4 linked regions of the Homo sapiens genome follow. The protein of the gene in region 1 purifies or fractionates together with the protein of each later gene. This does not show direct contact. Each region holds a gene or a part of one and is shown on either strand. Other genes may lie near its edges.

Region 1 (4,370 bases):
TCCTATTAATATCTTTATAGGCTGGAGTAATCAAGCAGGATGAAATAACATATGCAACTGCAAGGACCTATACAGAGATGTGGGGACACAGCCTAAAAAAATGGCTTTGTTAACATGTTTGAGGTACTAATCCAAGACAAACTTCACAAATACCAATAATATAATGTAGCCAAAGTTTAATGTATTTATTACATATTAAATTTTTATTAGTAATATATTGGCATGGCTCAAAAATGAAAATCATGTAAAAAGGCATATGCTCAGAATTGTTACTCCAACCCTTATGCCCATTCGCCAAGTCTTACTTCAGAGATTTCCACTTATGTTATTATTATGTATCCTTTAAGTATTCCTTGAGTGTAGCACAGGTAATATACACATATACATATTCTCATTTATTCCATCATTCTTACAAAAGAGAGTATGACTTATAAACTATTCTTCATCTCATTGTTTTTTCATTTTACAGTGTATCTTTCCATAACTGTATATAGAGTTTAATAATTTCTTTTCCAGCATCATGTTGTTTCATTCTATGGATATGACATGGCTTATTATGGTGGTTTTACAAAAAAGCCACAACTTCTTTGGCACTGCTCCCATTGAGAGGTAAGGTCTTGAATCTGGGTATTTGTAACTGCTTTGACAAATAGAGGATGGCAGAAATGACATTATATTTGACTTTTGAAGCTGGGTCATAAAAGACCACATGGCTTCCACTTAGGTCATCTTGTATTCAGGCATGTCTGATAGTTTTAATAATGACCTATGTCCTCATTAAGGGATGGTAGCAAATCCAAATACGACTTTTGCTGAGCCTGGCAAGGTATTTTATATAGAGAACTAGAACATGACAACCAAATTCTATAAACTTGGAAAATGCTTTTGTTACAAAACTTTAAAATAACTTTATATTAGTTTGTAAAATCCATACAGCTAATAGAAATCAATGTTTATTTGGATATGTCCAATGGTCTAAAAGGTGTCTGAAAATCTCACTTTAAGTCTACTCACTATCATTTCTCTATATTGTTTCTCCTCTGGATTGTCAGTCTTAGCACTTAATCTCTCAAACAATAAAATGTCATATTGTAACATGCCGTCTTCCAAATTCTCCCCCTGTGGAAATCACATGTTAAAAATGTCAAAAAATTCGGGGCTTTCTTGTACACTGTTTTAAAATCCTTACTACAGATTGACCAAGCCTAAATATCTCAATATGAGAGGAAGAAAAATTTTGCCATTGCCTTTAGAAGTAAATGCTTAGAATAAAATGCCCTAATCAATCATGCAGCACACACATGCAAATATATTCTACAGAGAAATAAAACAGTGCATGCTAGTTGGGCTTCTAATTTTTACAAGAGTCATGTAACATCCTTAATCTTCAATATATTATCTTTCTCATTTCTAAAAGCATACTGGAAGGAATAGCTATTTAGGTGAAAGAGGGACATTGGAAGTAAAAGAGTGAGATAAGAAAGGATAACAAGCATCTACATTTTAAATTTATAGATATATTTTCCTAAGTGTGTCCAGCTTCCTAAGAACAACTGTGTCATAAAATATAAAAGCCAAAGGTAAATTTATAGATATATTTTCCTAAGTGTGTCCAGCTTCCTAAGAACAACTGTGTCATAAAATATAAAAGCCAAAGGAAACATAATGCACCACTCCTTGGATAAATGTGGGAAACTGAGGCCCTGAGATGTAAAGTAACGATTCCAAGGCCAAACAGGTAGTAACTGGCGGAGATAAAAAGCCTCAGGTCTCCCAAGCCAAACACTACCTGGTGGCAGACCTTCTCTGGACTCTAAAGGGAGTTAGTTACACAATACTTGCACAATGCACCTGAAGTCCAGAAAAAGGAACCATGCTTTTTGCTTTTTTCACATTTGGTTGTTGTGGTTTTTACAGAAGAAAAGGAACTCACTTTACAACAGCAACTGGAAAAGAAAAAATCTAGAAAAGTTCAAAAGCAACATAAACTCCTTTGCACACCCCCATTACCACCAAAAATTTTTCTAAAAAAGCATAGAAACCCTCATAAAATAACAGAAACAGCAGGAAGAATGTATTCCTTTTCAGGAGCTACTATGGAATGCCATTCCCAATTTATTGAATACCTCTTACTCATTAAAAATGAAGCACAGGCCAGGCGCGGTGGCTCATGCCTGTAATCCAAGCACTTTGGGAGGCCAAGGTGGGTGGATCATTTGAGGTCAGGAGCTCGAGACCAGCCTGGCCAACATGGTGAAACCCCACCTCTCCTAAAAATACAAAAATTAGTCAAGTGTGGTGGCAGGCACCTGCAGTCTCATCTACTTGGGAGGCTGAGGAAGGAGAATTGCTTGAACCTAGGAGGTAGGGGTTGCAGTGAGCCGAGATCATGCCACTGCACTCCAGCCTGGGCAACAGAGTGAGAGTCTGTCTCAAAAAAAAAAAAAAAAAAAAAGAAAGAAACACAAAACACCTGAGCACAAGGTGTATTCAGGGTTACCTGCTTTTCCCAAATGGAAGTATTACAGTTTCCATTTAGATCACTTCCCAGATAGCTGTTTATTGCCCTCAAAGATAGTTATGAACATCCCTCCTGTTAACTTTCTTCTCCAATATCTATATCCATCTAGCTAACATTTGTATGCATTTGGCAAACCTTCCAAAATTTTAACAGAATGCTCTACCCTACAAGTTTTACATTCTTGAAGAGTCTGCATAGTCCTTGGAAACAAACAGGAAATTGAGAGCATCGTCTCCCTCTCCAGGAAAATGCTACTGTACATTTAATAAATAATTGTTGAATGAAATTTGCTCTCCAACCCCAAGTTTTCTCAGACCTCAGATTTGTACAACAAACTGCCTAATTCACATTTCTAATTGAATAACTAAAGGTATTGCAAACTCCACATGACTGAAACAGAATAGTGACTTCCACTGTTCTTCTCCCACCTCCCAAACACATGGCCAACTCTTCCTCCTGTTTGCCTATCTCAGATATAACCTTGTACCTACTTAGTTGGGTCATTTTTGGAGATTTGTGATTCCTTTCTTTTCACTGACTCAACCCATCAGCAAGTCCTGTTTAAAATACATCCTGACACCAACCACACCTCAGTGCTTCTGTCACCTGTACCCTGGTCCCCTGTTGCCTCTTCTGCTCTAACAGCATCCTGATTAGTGTCATGTCTCATTAGTCTGTTCTCCTCCACATGCCAACCAAGGGTGATTTTTTTAAAAAGTAAAGTGTTTTCATGTCTCTCCTTTGCTCCAACCTCTCCATAGCTTCTCATTATCCTCAGGACATAATCCCTTCTTCAGCAGGTGGAATAGAAATCTCCCCTGGGCTTCCCTCATTTACACCTCGCACCTCCTCTACCTCTTCTGCTGTCCTCTAAGTCACCATGCTCTAACCCACTGTCCCTTGTTTTTGTTTATTTATTTATTTATTTTTGAGACAGAGTCTCACTCTGTTGCGCAGGCTGGAGTACAATGGCACAATCGCAGCTCACTGCAGCCTCAAGCTCCTGGGCTCAAGAGATCCTCCAGCATCAGGCTCATGAGTAGCTGGGACTACAGGCATGAGCCGCAGTGCCCAGCCTCCTCCTTGTTTTTAAAATAGCAAGTGTTATACTTGCTGTTCCCGTTGCCTGGAGCACTCTTTCAGTAAATCTTCCAAAGGCTGATCCAACTCATGTTTCAGGTCTCTCGGTGATTGCTATCTCTGAGTTGTCTTTCCTGGACGCTCATCTCAAACATTTGCCATCCAAACAGTTACTCTCCACCCTCACAGGTTGCTTTATTTTCTTCACCCTCTGAAATTATAACGCTTACTGTATGTATCTCTCACAGGAATGTAAGCTCTCCAGCATCTGGAATACTGTAATAGGCATTCAAATATTTGAAAGGATGACTGAATGAAACATTTCTTAATATTTTAAAGATGCTCAGTATAGACAGAAGGAAATGTGGGCATTATAAAACAGAATATAAGAATCCTGGAGCCTGATGCCTACAGAATAATGACAAAAAGACTACAACAGCAAATGAGCTCACCACCATACTGGAAAGCTAGAAGCCGATCTATTTCACCAATGTGTGGGCTCTATTTTTCCTTGAAGAGGATGTGGCCTCAGTGAAGCAAATTTTGATTCAAGAACCATTTTGAAAAAAATTCCCTTAAATGGAGCATTAGCATTAGCATAGCACAATAGGCTTCTCATATTTGCCAAGGCCCTGCTTGCTCAGTATCACAGCAGGTGAACACTCTACTGGGGCTTGGGGGAGCTTCAGGAAGCTGCTCTCAAATATCCTGCATCCTTTTCTCCTCATTGTGACAATCTGGCTTCCAGTGGGTTTCCGAATCCTTGGCA
Region 2 (4,370 bases), on another chromosome or scaffold:
CACCTGCATTAAAGGAAATTCTAAAGGAAATACTTTAGAGAAAAGGTCTGAGACACGAAAAGAAAAAATAGTCAAAAAAGTGGTAAATAGGCCAGGCACAGTGGCTAAACCTGTAATTCCAGCACTTTGGGAAGCCAAAGCAGGTGGATCACTCAAGATCATGAGTTTGAGACCAGCCTGGCCAATGTGGTGAAACACCATCTCTACTAAAAATACAAAAATTAGCCTGGTGTGGTGGTGCACAACTGTAATCCCAGCTACTCTGGAGGCTGAGGCAGGAGAATCGTTTAAACCCAGGAGGTGGAGGTGAGCCAAGATCGCGCCACTGCACTCCAGCCTGGGTGGCAGAGTGAGACTCTATTTCAAACCAACAACAACAAAAAAAGTGGTAAATTTATGTGTAAATGCAAAACTTCAACAATATAGAACAAAAATTATAATGTATGGAAGGTTTAAAACAAATAACTAAAATATATAACTGTAGCATATAGGTCAGGATGTTCTCTAAGTCAGGTTTTGCATTATTCAGGAGGAGAACAAAGATTTTCATTAAATTTAGACTTTGATAAGTTATGTTTGTTAAATTTGCTTGGAAAACTATGTAAAAAGCTAGATATTGTGCATAATTTCCATATTAGTAAGAGGAAAATGGAATGGGGGGAAAACAATCTAAAGAAGGCATGAAAAAGGACAGAATAAAGGAACATAAAGAAGATGGCACAGGGCCAGGTGCAGTGGCTCACACCTATAATCCCAGCACTTTGGGAGGCTGATGGGGGGCGGATCACCTGAGGTCAGGAGTTCGAGACTAGCCTGGCCAACATGGTGAAACCCCATCTCTACTAAAAATACAAAAATTAGCAGGGCACGGTGGCAGGCACCTGCAATCCCAGCTACATAGGAGGCTGAGACAGGAGAATCGCCTGAACCCGGGAGGCAGAGGTTGCAGTAAGCCAAGATTGCACCACTACACTCCCGCCTGGGCGACAGAGTGAGACTCCGCCTCAAAAAAAAAAAAAAAAAAAAAAAAAAGAAGACGGCACAGAGAGCACAATACTGTAGAAATGAGTGCAAATATATCAGTAATTACAGTAAATGTAAATGGATTAAATGTGCCAGTTAAAGATTGTCAGAATGGATAAACAAAATATAATACACTATTTGCAAAAGATGTATCTAATCATAAAACTACAGAAAGATGGAAAGGATAGAAAAAGATACATGGGAAAATGTCAACCAAAAGAAAGCTGGTATCACTTATATTCCTATCAGAAATAAAGGTATAAGAATGACCTTCATTTACAGATGACAAACTGGGCTCAGAAGCTGGGAGACATAGCAGCAAGTACAGCCTCAAACTCAGGCCGGATTCCTAAACCAGGATTTTAGACCATGTTGTCCCTCTGCTCTCTTCTCTTTTTTAATCTTTTATGGATCATATGTCTGGAATATAAGTTTCATTGCAGAAAACATACAAAATAATGGGGAAAAATAGAACTCTGCCATCCAGAGGTGACAGCTGTTAAGTGGTCTAGAGGTTCGATGCAAATAAGGGCTGTGCTGGCTTCACAAGAATCACTGGAAGTCTGCTAAAAATACTGATTCTAGGACCCAACACAGAGATTCCAATTCATTAGGTTTAGGGTGGAGTCTCAACATCTGAATTTTTTAACCACTTGGGAGTGGTTCCTATGGGCTGCCAAGTTTGGAAGATTAATGCTGTAGATTTGCACTGTCCAATACAATAATCACTAACTACATGTGACTACTTAAATTTAATATCATTAAAATTAAATGAAATTAAAAATTCAATTCCATAGTTGTAGTAGATACATTTCAAATGCTCAATAGCTCATGTGGTTCGTGGCTACCATACTGGACAAAACACAGCTATAAGACATTTCCATCACTGCAGAAAATTGGATTGGACAGACAATAAGTTCCAAGAAGGCAAGGATCATATCTTTCTTGTTCATAGCTGTATGCCTAGTATCAAATACATATTAAAGAGGTGAGTAATCTGGTGTATTTCTTTCCAGTCTCTTAGTCTCCTGCTCACTTTCATATCTGAAACTGATGGGGAAATCCTGAGACTTCCCCACCTCACCCTCCAGGAGGGAAGAAGAGCTCTGTCGGTCAGAGGTTTTGGCCAAGGGTCCTGGCATGGTCAGTCCTTAAAATCCTATTTACCACTTCTTGGTTTACAGAGGCAACTTCACACTCTTTTTTCTTTTAAAGGTCCTAGAGAGCAGCCCTTACCTCGAATGTTTGTTTCAAACACAGAGGCGTTCACATCAATATCAAAGTCCACGCTGTCCTGGAGCACTTCAACCACTCTTTGGAATTCTGAGACATTCCCCAAAATCTGGAAATAAAAAAGAGACCTGACAATGAGGCTCTTACATGCATGGAGGCAGATTCAGAGTCTGGGATCCTATGTTGATGTGGCCCTCACTAATTCCACTTAAGACCTCCAGTTTCTGTCCTAGGATTGGTGACAGCAGAAGAAAACACTGAGAGCTAGAAATCATCTAGAGACTTCATACCAAGAGACTGGTTAAGTAAATTCCTAGGTCCCAATTAAGAGTCACGATGTTGTCATTTAAATGGACACAATATAAAGAACGCAAACTACGCATAGAAGTCTTAGGTTTTTTGTTTCGTTTTTTTGAGACAGAGTCTCGCTCTGCTGCCCAGGGTAGAGTGCAGTGGCGTGATCTTGGCTCACTTCAAACTCCGCCTCCTGGGTTCAAGCGATTCTCCTGCCTCAGCCCCGAGTAGCTGGGATTATGCACCACCATGCCCGGCTAATTTTTGTATTTTTAGTAGAGACGGGGTTTCACCATGTTGATCAGGCTGGTCTCAAACTCCTGACCTCATGATCCACCCGCCTTGGCCTCCCAAAGTGCTGGGATTACAGGTGTGAGCGACCGCACCTGGCCAAAAGTCTTAGTTTGACATTTGCAGTAGATACCAGTTGTCACCTTCAACCTTGTGGAAAACAGAACAGGTTGGTTGGCCCAAAACAAATTCATTCCTACCCTCTTTACCTCATGGCCTCCCACCAGAGGTTGGAAATCCAGAAGCTTTCTCGGCCTCCTTTGCTGCTGCAGTTGATTGTGTTACCCAGTCAATTCTGACCCTTGAGAGGTCTACTGGGGGCACTTCTGGGAAGGCTTCTGTTTTCTTAATACCAAGGGACAAACACAGCTAACATGGCTTTTAGTCTCTCTCTTTCTGCCTTGAACTCAGACTCGATTTCTGAAGTGATGGCAGCTATGTGAGACCATGACGTACTAAGCATTAGAATAAAAGCCAAAACACTAACGATACTAGAATGCAAAGCTACAAAGAGGCTGGTCTCTAATGACACAGTTGCGTAGCTGACCCAATGCTAGAAATTACCTCTAGACTTTCTTTTACTTGAGAAAATAAACCCTCTTTATTTAAACCGTTAGCCAAATGCAATCTCAATCTCTCTTCTTTTGATAGTAACATCTCAATTTACCCTCGAGGAATCACTCTTCCCCGGCAGTCACTCCTGTGGTTTGGGAGAGGCTGATCCCATCCCTCTAGCTGTGGAGTGGGTACTTGACCTGAACCAGTCCAAGTCTTTTTTTTGAGACAGGGTCTTGCTCTGTTACACAGGTTGGAGTGCAGTGGTGTGATCATAGCTCATCACAGCCTCGAACTCTGGGACTTGAGCAATGTTGGCCTCCCAAAGTGCTGGGATTACAGGCATGAGCCACCACACCTGGCCCTTTTTACCTTTCTAAGCATCAGGTTTCTTTTATATCTTTTTTTTGTTTGTGTGAGACAGGGTTTTACTCTGTTACCCAGACCAGAGTGCAGTGGTGCGATCTCGGCTCACTGCAACCTCTGCCTCCCTGACTCAAACAATCCTCCTACCTCACCCTCCTCCCTAACAAATGGAGCCACAGACATGTGCCATCATGCCTAATTTTTTATATTTTTGGTAGAGACGGGGTTTCACCATATTGCCCAGGCTGGTCTTGAACTCCTGTGCTCAAGCAGTCCTGCCGCCTTGGCCTCCCAAAGTGCTGGGATTACAGGCGTGAGCCACTGTGCCCATCCCTAAGCATCAGGTTTCTTAACGATAAGAAGGAGTAAAGGTACTAACCTCAAGAAGTTGTTAGAAGAATTAATACATGTCTGTACTAAGCCCTACAGAAACATACTAACTAGTCACTGATATTATTTCTTTATAATTTTTTTTGAGATGAAGTTTCACTCTTGTCACCCAGGCTGGAGTGCAATGGTGCAATCTCGGCTCACTGCAACCTCCGCCTCCCGGGTTCAGGCAATTCTCCTGCCTCAGCCTCTCCAGTAGCTGGGATAACAGACATGTG
Region 3 (4,370 bases), on another chromosome or scaffold:
TTTCCCTGGACATTTTCCCAGGAACTGCCTAGAAACACAAAGACTGTAAGTCTAATACATTTTTAGAGAAAGTATAAAGCCAAAATCATAAGAAGCTAAGATTATTTAACCCCTAACCTCTAGGCCCACAAACCTACGCTGGCAGCAAGAGGACTACAAAATGGGTACAATTCCCAAAGATGATATACTCTCTAACTACCATTTTGGATGTGGCCAGAAAGGAAAAACTTCCTGGAGAACAAAGCCAGGAGTCAGGGAAAAAGGGTGAGGGAGTTCCTCCAAGAAAGCAGAACCACTAACCACTTCCTGGTCAGAATAGGGAGTCTTTGAAATTGTGTGAGGCAATTATTTGATCATTACTGGAAAGCAATGACTTCTACATGTTTCTCATTCTTCCCTTTTCCAAATGGGAGTTTGTAACTCTCACTGTGATGATCCTTTTCTTATTTCACCATTGTCTACTGGGTTAGGCTGGGAAAGCAGGGAAAACATATGACTTATCTTTTACTTTATGGTCAGTGGACCACAGGAGCCACACCAGGGCCTGATGGATAGGACTGTGTACCACCTAGACATGCTGGACTTGGAGCCAAACACAGTGACTAGATAGGTCTTTGGAGCTACCTCTCTCAGAGAAGAGGCGTATTCTATGTTTGGGAAGAAAGGTTCACTGAAATATCTGGGTGGCCAGGAGAGTAGACTGGAAGACTGCAAGTCATCCCCTGATATCCTATAACTTCCTCCAGAGTAACAGAGTTTTAGTTGAGCCTACGACTACATAGCCAGAGATGACAATTCCTGGCCTCCCTTCTAGCTATGCTAGCTACATGACTGTGTAGTGAACAGTAAGATGTAAGTGGAAGCTTCTCAACAATATCAGGCCACTTCTGGGCCCTGCCTTTAAAATTACTGGGCAAGCACTGGGATATAACAAGCACCAAAGGAGCTGCCTTGGCCAGAAGTGGAAAGCACTAATTGCTTTGGGAATTAGGGAATTGGAAATGGCAGAGCCACCCCAACATCCCAAACCACTCATCTCTGGACTATCTCATTAAAATTAATACTGTATCTTGGGGGTCTCTCTCATAGTAGCTTAGAGTACACCTTAAACTGTATAAGGGGTTAGCCATAGAAAGTAATAAGGACCTCATTCTGAGATAAGAACTAAGGAAGTAAGGCTGGGTTAAGTAAGAAAAGATTTTTAAGTGCCAACGGGGAAGGTTGAGGCACTTTTTAAAACTAATTACTAAGATTTCCCAACTATGGCCACTCTAATAAGCCACCAGAGTGATCTTTCTAAAGCAAAAACTGACTGAAGGGCCAGGGGCAGTGGCTCACGCCTGTAATCCCAACGCTTTGGGAGGCCAAGGCAGGCGAATCACCTGAGGTCAGGAGCTTGAGACAAGCCTGGCCAACATGGTGAAACCCCAACTCTACTAAAAATACAAAAATTAGCTGGGCATGGTGGTGCACGCCTGTAATCCCAGCTACTCAGGAGGCTAAGGCACGAGAATCATCTGAACCTGGGAGATGGAGGTTGCAGTGAGCCAAGATCGCACCACTGCACTCCAGCCTGGGTGACAGAGTGAGACTCTGTTTCTAAATAAATAAATAAATAAATAAATAAAACAAACCTGACTCTGTCACACCCTGGCTGAAAACCTTCAATGCCTTTCCACTGCCCACAAGGTAAAGTCCAAGCTCTTAATATGGCCTACAAGGCCCTACATGACTTTTCTTCTACCCATCTCTCTAGCTTTATTTTCACCATCCTGGGCACCAGTCACAGAGAACAGTCTGCAGTTCCCTAAATATGCCCGCCCTATGATCTCATGCCTCCATACTTCTCTACCTGCTGTTCCTTCTACTTGGAATACCATTCTCCTATCTACTACTTCCCATCCCCCCAACCCTTGACATCGTGGATTTGACTTTCTCCCTCATTAAACTATAACCCTTATGAGGGCAAATACCACATATCTTGTTATATCCCCAGCACCAAGCAAAGTGCCTGGCAATAGTTAAGTGCTCAGTAAATATTTACTGAAAGAATGAACAAAGGAACATTATCTATCTTATCTGAATTATTTTCACATATCACACAGCTCTAGAGCAAAGTCATTTTTACATTTAACATTTCATCTTTCTTCAAAATAAAATATCACTTCAATAATAGAATAAAATAATTACAAGTTAAATTTATAAGTAACAAAACCAGATATATTTTCTAAGTTGGTGAAGGTTACTATTCTGTCAGCTTATTCAAATTATGTACCTAGAAGCTTGTTTTCTACTTTTCTACCGTTCTGATTAGAGTAACAGAATTCCCTTCTTTCATCCCTTACCACATGCAGAACAGAACTCACTTGCCATGTGAGTACGTTAGTTTGTTATTTTCAGAAGGTATCTTAGCCAGAATCTGCTCTGTCACCTCCAGGAAGTTTCCTCCACACCAAGCATGTTTGGCAAGGATAGTGGTCCCCCTGGCAACAACAGCAAAAAGAATCGCCATGGCTTCAGTCTATCAAAAGGAAAAAGACACAGATTTAGAATATTTCTTTGACATAATCTTTCAAAGGTAACTTACTATCATTTATCAACATACTACCTGGAGATAGTATCTAACGAGGCACTATAACATGAAACTTAACAACAGACTTAAGAGCAGGCTTAAAAAGAAGGTCAAAGTTTTCTACAAACTTACAACCTAAGCCATGCTTGTATGCATTCATATAAAGAGACATACAAAACACATACACACACACACACACCATTGATAGCTTGCATTTACAAATTATTATAGCACAAACAGATATCACCCTTTTGAAAAGCAATGACTATAGATAGCAAAGGGACATAAAGATGTCTTCATTCTTTAATGTAGAAATTCCATCCTGAAAATTTATCCTAGAGAAATAGTTCAACAGAAGTTAAGACTCTAGATTCACAAAGATAACTATTAACAATAAAAATAGCCTATATTTATTGTTTACTATGTGCCAGGTACCATTTTAAATACTTTATAATTATTAATCCATTTAATCCTCACAACTCAATGAGATTATACACTATTATGATACTTCTATTATAGATGAGAAAACTGAAGCACAGATGACTTAAATAATTTCCCCCAAATTACAGAGCTAGTAAGTGTGGAGCTGCAATTTAAACCTAGGCAGTATGGTTCTAGAGCTCATAATCTTAGCCTTTTACTGTACACTGCCAGTATAAAGGCATTATCCATAACAGAAACAAAGTGAAAATAACTCAAAGCTTCCACAAGAAAGGAATGGTAAGACCCTTCATAAACAAAACATTACTAAAACCATATGGCATGAGTTTAAGATTATTTTCCTTATGTCTGCCTATGAATATGTGCTATTATTTCCCACCTAACAAGCCCAGCTTCTCTTATTTAATGGCATAAACATAAAAAGAGATGAACAAATCCTTGTCTAGTCTTCGATTAACTGTTAAACCTACTCTTATTTGTTAACATGCTCAGTACCCAACATACCAGTGGTTCTCAAACTGTAGTGGGAATACGAATCATCTTGTGTGGCAGAGTATGAGTCATTTGCTAAAAATTCAAACTCTTGGCATCACTTCCTGAAATTCTGATTCCGTAGGCCTGAGGTAGGGCCCTGGAATCTGTATTTAATACAAGTCTGTCTGGATGCAGGTGATTCACACAAACATACTTTGTGAAACACAACAGCAAACTATAAACTGTTTGAGATCAAGGAATGTGCAGATTCCTTATTGCAATCCCAGCATGGAAGGACAGCACACAGAGCAGAAGGTGCTCATCTGTCTCTTGGGCTGAATGCCTTTTGGGGATCTCTTTTTCATTCCTACTCTCTAACTGAAGTTGTTCCCCAGGGTTGTGATCTCAACCATCTTCTTTCTAGAATTCTCCTTACACATATGCAGTAAGTTATAGTTTCCAAATTGCTGTCTTATACTTTATCTCCCTTGATCCTAAAGCCTCCCTAACTGTGGATCCTACTGTTCTGTTTCTTTTCTTTTTTTTTTTTTTTTGAGACAGGGTCTTGCTCTGTCACCCAAGCTCCAGGCTAGAGTGCAGTGGCACAATCTTGGCTCACTACAGCCTCCACTTATCAGGCTCAAGTGATCCTCCTACCTCAGCCTCTGGAGTATCTGGGACTACAGGTGTGTGCCACCATGTCCGGCTATTTTTGTATTTTTTTTTGTACAGACAGGGTTTCACCATGTCACCCAGGCTGGTCTTGAACTCCCGGGCTCAAGTGATCCACCTGCCTTGGCCTCCCAAAGTGCTGGGATTACAGGCATGAGCCACCGTACCTGGCCCTGTTCTGTTTCTTCAAAGCATCGTTACGCATTATCTC
Region 4 (4,370 bases), on another chromosome or scaffold:
CTCTACAAAAAATAAAAATATTAGCTGGATGTGGTGGCATATGCCTGTGGTCTCAGCTACTCAGGGGCCAGGGAGGGAGGTCGCTTGAGCCCGGGAGGTCAAGGCTACAGTGAGCTGTGACTGTGCCACCTACACTTCAGCCTGGGTGACAGAGTAAGACCCTGTCTCAAAAAAACAAAAAACTAAGCAAAGCTAGTGATGCTTGGTCAGGGATGGGAGTAGGGTCCAGTAAATACACTGGAAAATCTTTGGGCTGGAATCAGGTTGGGAAAGATCCCAAGGGGAAAAATACAAGGGAGGATGATAAGTTGGGAAAATAGCAATGGGATAGAAGGGAAAAACATCACAAATAAAAGGTGCACTGTTGGGAAACTGGGAAAGCTTCCTGCTGGCCAGGAGGATTTGACCTGTGTCAAGTATACATCAACAGCCTGACCTATACCAGGTCTACTTTCATGGTCAAAGAACTGATCACTCTGGCCATAGGGAAGAGATCCAAGTTCTGTCACTGACTGTAAGAAGAGACTCAGATGAAGCATGCTTTTAGCAGTTAGTGTTTTTTTTTTTTGTTTTTTTTTTTTCTGAATGGAGTCTTGCTCTGTTGCCCAGGCTGGAGTGCAGTGGTATGATCTCTGCTCACTGCAACCTCCGCCTCCCAGGTTCAAGTGATTCTCCTGCCTCAGCCTCCCAAGTAGCTGGGATTACAGGTGTGTGCCATCACACACAGCTAATTTTTGTATTTTTAGTAGAGATGAGGTTTCACCATGTTGGCTGGGCTGGTCTCGAACTCTTGACCTCAAGTGATCCACTCGCCTTGGTCTCCCAAAGTGCTGGGATTACAGGCGTGAGCTACAGCCTCTGTACCCAGCCATTTTTTAGGTTTTGACTGTTAGCTGTAGCCATTCTACTGCTTGAGAAGGTCAAATTTGGCTGCCAGTATTTTTGCCAGAGATAACCAATGAGAGTATTGGGATGGGGTGAGAAAAGTCAGAGTTGTTATAAAATGGCTTGTTTTCGTGTTGGTGCTAGAAGAGGGTAGGGAGGCCTACACTGAGTTACGAGCCATACTTTTGGGGAAAAAGACTGCTATGGATGTGGTGACTCTGGAGCATGAAAATGATTAGAATTTGGAGAGGAGACTGCATTATGTCTTTTTTTTTTTTTTTGAGATGGAGTTTCGCTCTTGTTGCCCAAGATGGAGTGTGATGGCGTGATCTCAGCTCACCACAACCTCTGCCTTCCAGGTTCAGGCAATTCTTCTGCCTCAGCCTTCCAAGTAGCTGGGATTACAGGCATGCACTACCACGCCCGGCTAATTTTTTGTATTTTTAGTAGAGATGGGGTTTCTCCATGTTGGTCAGGCTGGTCTCGAACTCTTGACCACAGGGATCCACCCGCCTCAGCCTCCCAAAGTGCTGGGATTACAGGCATGAGCCACCGCATCCGGCTGAGACTGCATTATTTCTTAGGATGAATGTTTTTTCCTGAAACCCCTTCATGTGAGGAAGACTGACGGAAGACTTTGCCATCTATTGAGCTCTTTGCTGGTAAGGATGTGAGTTGTTGGTGTTTGCCTAGGTCACCTATAGTAACAAGTCTTGAGTGCTGCACTGATGGTTAGGAGTTTGCTTTCACCATACGGCTCAGTCTCAAAAAAAAAAAAAAAAGAAGAAGTAATAGTGGAAAAAGGCAACTGGCCAGGGAGTTCCTGTGGCAGGAGGGCACTGACCACTGTGCTGGATGCACTGGTCCTTCCAGCAGAGGACAGAGAGAAGGAAGTGGTGGGGTTGTCCAGTTTAGAGCCCAGACAAGATGACTTCCCTGGCCAGCCCTCCTTCAGCAGGACCATTAAAGGGTCTCCTTGCTAAAAGGTGGACACATAGTGTTAATTAAAGCCAGAAAGCCCAGGAGTTTATGAAGCCCATCTCATGATGATTGCAACCATCGCACAGAGGCCTTTCTTGGAACCCTAACTTTATACCCTGAAATCCCCCAAAATATGTTTCATGGATCCAACATTCATTCATTCACTCTTTTCCCCTTCTGAGCATTTACCATAAATCAGGACCTGTTCTGAGAGCTAGGGATGCATATAGTTATGAGACAATCGACCTTGAGGATCTTTTTTTTTTTTTTGAGATGGAGTCTTGCTCTGTCACCCAGACTGGAGTGTAGTGGTGCAGTCTCAGCTCACTGCAGCCTCCGCCTCCTGGGTTCCAGCAATTCTCCTGCCTCAACCTCCCAGGTAGCTGGGATTACAGGCATGCACTACCACACTTGGCTATTTTTTGTATTTTTAGTAGAGACGGGGTTTCACCATGTTGGTCAGGCTGGTTTCGAACTCCTGACCTCAGGTGATCCGCCCACTTCGGCCTCCCAAAGTGCTAGGATTACAGGTGTGAGCCATCATGCCCAGCTGACCTTGAGGATCTTAGTAGGGAAGGCTGATTCACGGATAATTGCCATGGCTTGTGAAACATACTTTAATAAAGGTGTGGCAAAGCTCAAGGACACAGTGGAAGGAATGTGTAGTTCTGCTATGGGGAGTCATGGGAAGAGGCAGAGAAGGTTCTACAAAGGAGAAAACACTTGGTCGGAGTCTTCAAGAGAGGAAATCTAGAGAGAGCACATGTAAAAGCATGGAGAGGTATAATGGCACGGTATGTATGAGGAATTCTAAGTCTTTTGGTACACTCAAGGAGTAGTGCATATACCTGTCATTTAATTATATGTAATTCTCACAATTCTCCAAGGTAGCTATTATTGTCCCAATTGTCTAATTAAGAAAATCTGGGGCTGGGCGCAGTGGCTCATACCTGTAATCTCAGCACTTTGGGAAAGTGAGGTGGGTGGCTTGCTTGAGGCCAGGAGTTCAAGACCAGCCTGGGTGACATTGCAAAACCCTGTCTCTACTAAAAACACAAAAATTAGCCAAGGGTGGTGGTGTGCCCCTGTAGTCTCAGCTGCCCGGGAGGCTGAGGCACAAGAACCACCTGGATCCAGGAGGAGGAGGCTGCAGTGAGCTGAGATAGCACTACTGTACTCCAGCCTAGGCGACAGAGCAAGACTCTGTCTCAAAAAATTAAAATTAAAAAAAAAAAAAAAAAAAAGGAAAATCTGAGGGCTTAATGATTAAAAATTTCACTTGGTGCACAGCCACTAAGTTGAGTTGAGATGTGAACTGAGGTCTGTTTGATTCTAAAGCCCAAAAGGAAGGCATATGACTTTAAAAAAGGGAAGGGGGAAGAAACTGAAGAAGGAAATGATGTGGCGTCTACAGAGTTGGTGGGGTTAATTCCTTCAGCAACTCCCCTCCCCACCTTATTTTAGGTTTAGGAATAATACCAAAAGCAATCAGTCATTTTAATTTTTATTATTATTTTTAAGACAGGGTCTCCCTCTGTCACCCAGGCTAGAGTGCAGTGGTGCGATCTCAGCTCACTGCAGCCTTGACCTCTCAGGCTCAAGCAATCCTCCTGCCTCAGCCTCTTGAGTAGCTGGGACAACACGTGTGTGCCACTGTGCCTGGCTAATTTTTAATTTTTTTGTAGAGATGGGTTCCTGCTATGTTGTCTAGGCTCAAGCGATCCTCACATTTCAGCCTCCCAAAGTGTTGGGATTATTGGCATGAACCACTGTGCCTAGGCTTCAAGAATCACTGTACAGTATTGGTGCCAACCTGGGCCATTAGATCTATTGATATGTTTTCAAGGTTTTGAGATTAAGGGTGCATACATGTATAAGCTTATCTATAAGATTAATTTCTAGAAATGAAACTGTTAAGTCAAAGTAAAAAAATTTGACAGTGATGCCAGGTGCGGTGGCTTACGCCTGTAATCCCAGCACTTTGGGAGGCTGAGGTGGGCAGTTCTCCTGAGGTCGGGAGTTCGCAACCAGCCTGACCAACATGGAGAAACGCCATCTCTACTAAAAATACAAAAAATTAGCTGGGCGTGGTGGCACATGCCTGTAATTCCAGCGACTCAGGAGACTGAGGCAGAAGAATCGCTTGAACCCGGGAGGCGGAGGTTTCAGTGAGCTGAGATTGCACCATTGCACACCAGCCTGGGCAACAAGAGTGAAACTCCGAAAAAAAAAAAAAAATTGACAGTGATGTCAACTGCTCTCCAAAGATGGCTTTATCAATTTATGTTCTCGCCCGCAGTGTACGTATGTGCTTGTTTCCCACATCCTCACCAGCCTTTGGCATTATCAGTGCTGGTGTGAGAAGTAAAAATGGAATCTGTGATTGTAATCTGGTTTACCTTTGGCTTCAATCCTCTGGCCACTTCCAATCAAGCAGTCCTTGATGTCTGCACCCTTCTCGATCACAGCATTGTTGCAGATGACACTGCCTTGGATATTGCTTC

What was found.
Region 2: the proteins of PIP4P2 (region 1) and EDEM2 purify together in Homo sapiens (co-immunoprecipitation; one large-scale study listed by IntAct). This does not show direct contact.
Region 3: the proteins of PIP4P2 (region 1) and VAMP7 purify together in Homo sapiens (affinity purification with mass spectrometry; one large-scale study listed by BioGRID and IntAct). This does not show direct contact.
Region 4: the proteins of PIP4P2 (region 1) and EIF2B3 purify together in Homo sapiens (affinity purification with mass spectrometry; one large-scale study listed by BioGRID and IntAct). This does not show direct contact.

The regions. Positions count from the first base shown.
Region 1 is NC_000008.11:91,030,347-91,034,716, forward strand, and holds part of PIP4P2 (type 2 phosphatidylinositol 4,5-bisphosphate 4-phosphatase), read right to left. Parts: intron 1-4,370. UniProt on the Homo sapiens protein: Catalyzes the hydrolysis of phosphatidylinositol-4,5-bisphosphate (PtdIns-4,5-P2) to phosphatidylinositol-4-phosphate (PtdIns-4-P).
Region 2 is NC_000020.11:35,140,114-35,144,483, forward strand, and holds part of EDEM2 (ER degradation-enhancing alpha-mannosidase-like protein 2 isoform 1 precursor), read right to left. Parts: intron 2,366-4,370; coding exon 2,260-2,365; intron 1-2,259. Other genes in the region: MMP24-AS1-EDEM2 (ER degradation-enhancing alpha-mannosidase-like protein 2), read right to left, coding at 2,260-2,365. UniProt on the Homo sapiens protein: Involved in the endoplasmic reticulum-associated degradation (ERAD) pathway that targets misfolded glycoproteins for degradation in an N-glycan-dependent manner.
Region 3 is NC_000023.11:155,887,609-155,891,978, reverse strand, and holds part of VAMP7 (vesicle-associated membrane protein 7), read right to left. Parts: intron 2,522-4,370; 5' UTR 2,513-2,521; coding exon 2,367-2,512; exon of another isoform or gene 2,351-2,366; coding exon of another isoform or gene 2,346-2,350; intron 1-2,345. UniProt on the Homo sapiens protein: Involved in the targeting and/or fusion of transport vesicles to their target membrane during transport of proteins from the early endosome to the lysosome. Required for heterotypic fusion of late endosomes with lysosomes and homotypic lysosomal fusion.
Region 4 is NC_000001.11:44,853,439-44,857,808, forward strand, and holds part of EIF2B3 (translation initiation factor eIF2B subunit gamma), read right to left. Parts: intron 4,370-4,370; coding exon 4,266-4,369; intron 1-4,265. UniProt on the Homo sapiens protein: Acts as a component of the translation initiation factor 2B (eIF2B) complex, which catalyzes the exchange of GDP for GTP on the eukaryotic initiation factor 2 (eIF2) complex gamma subunit.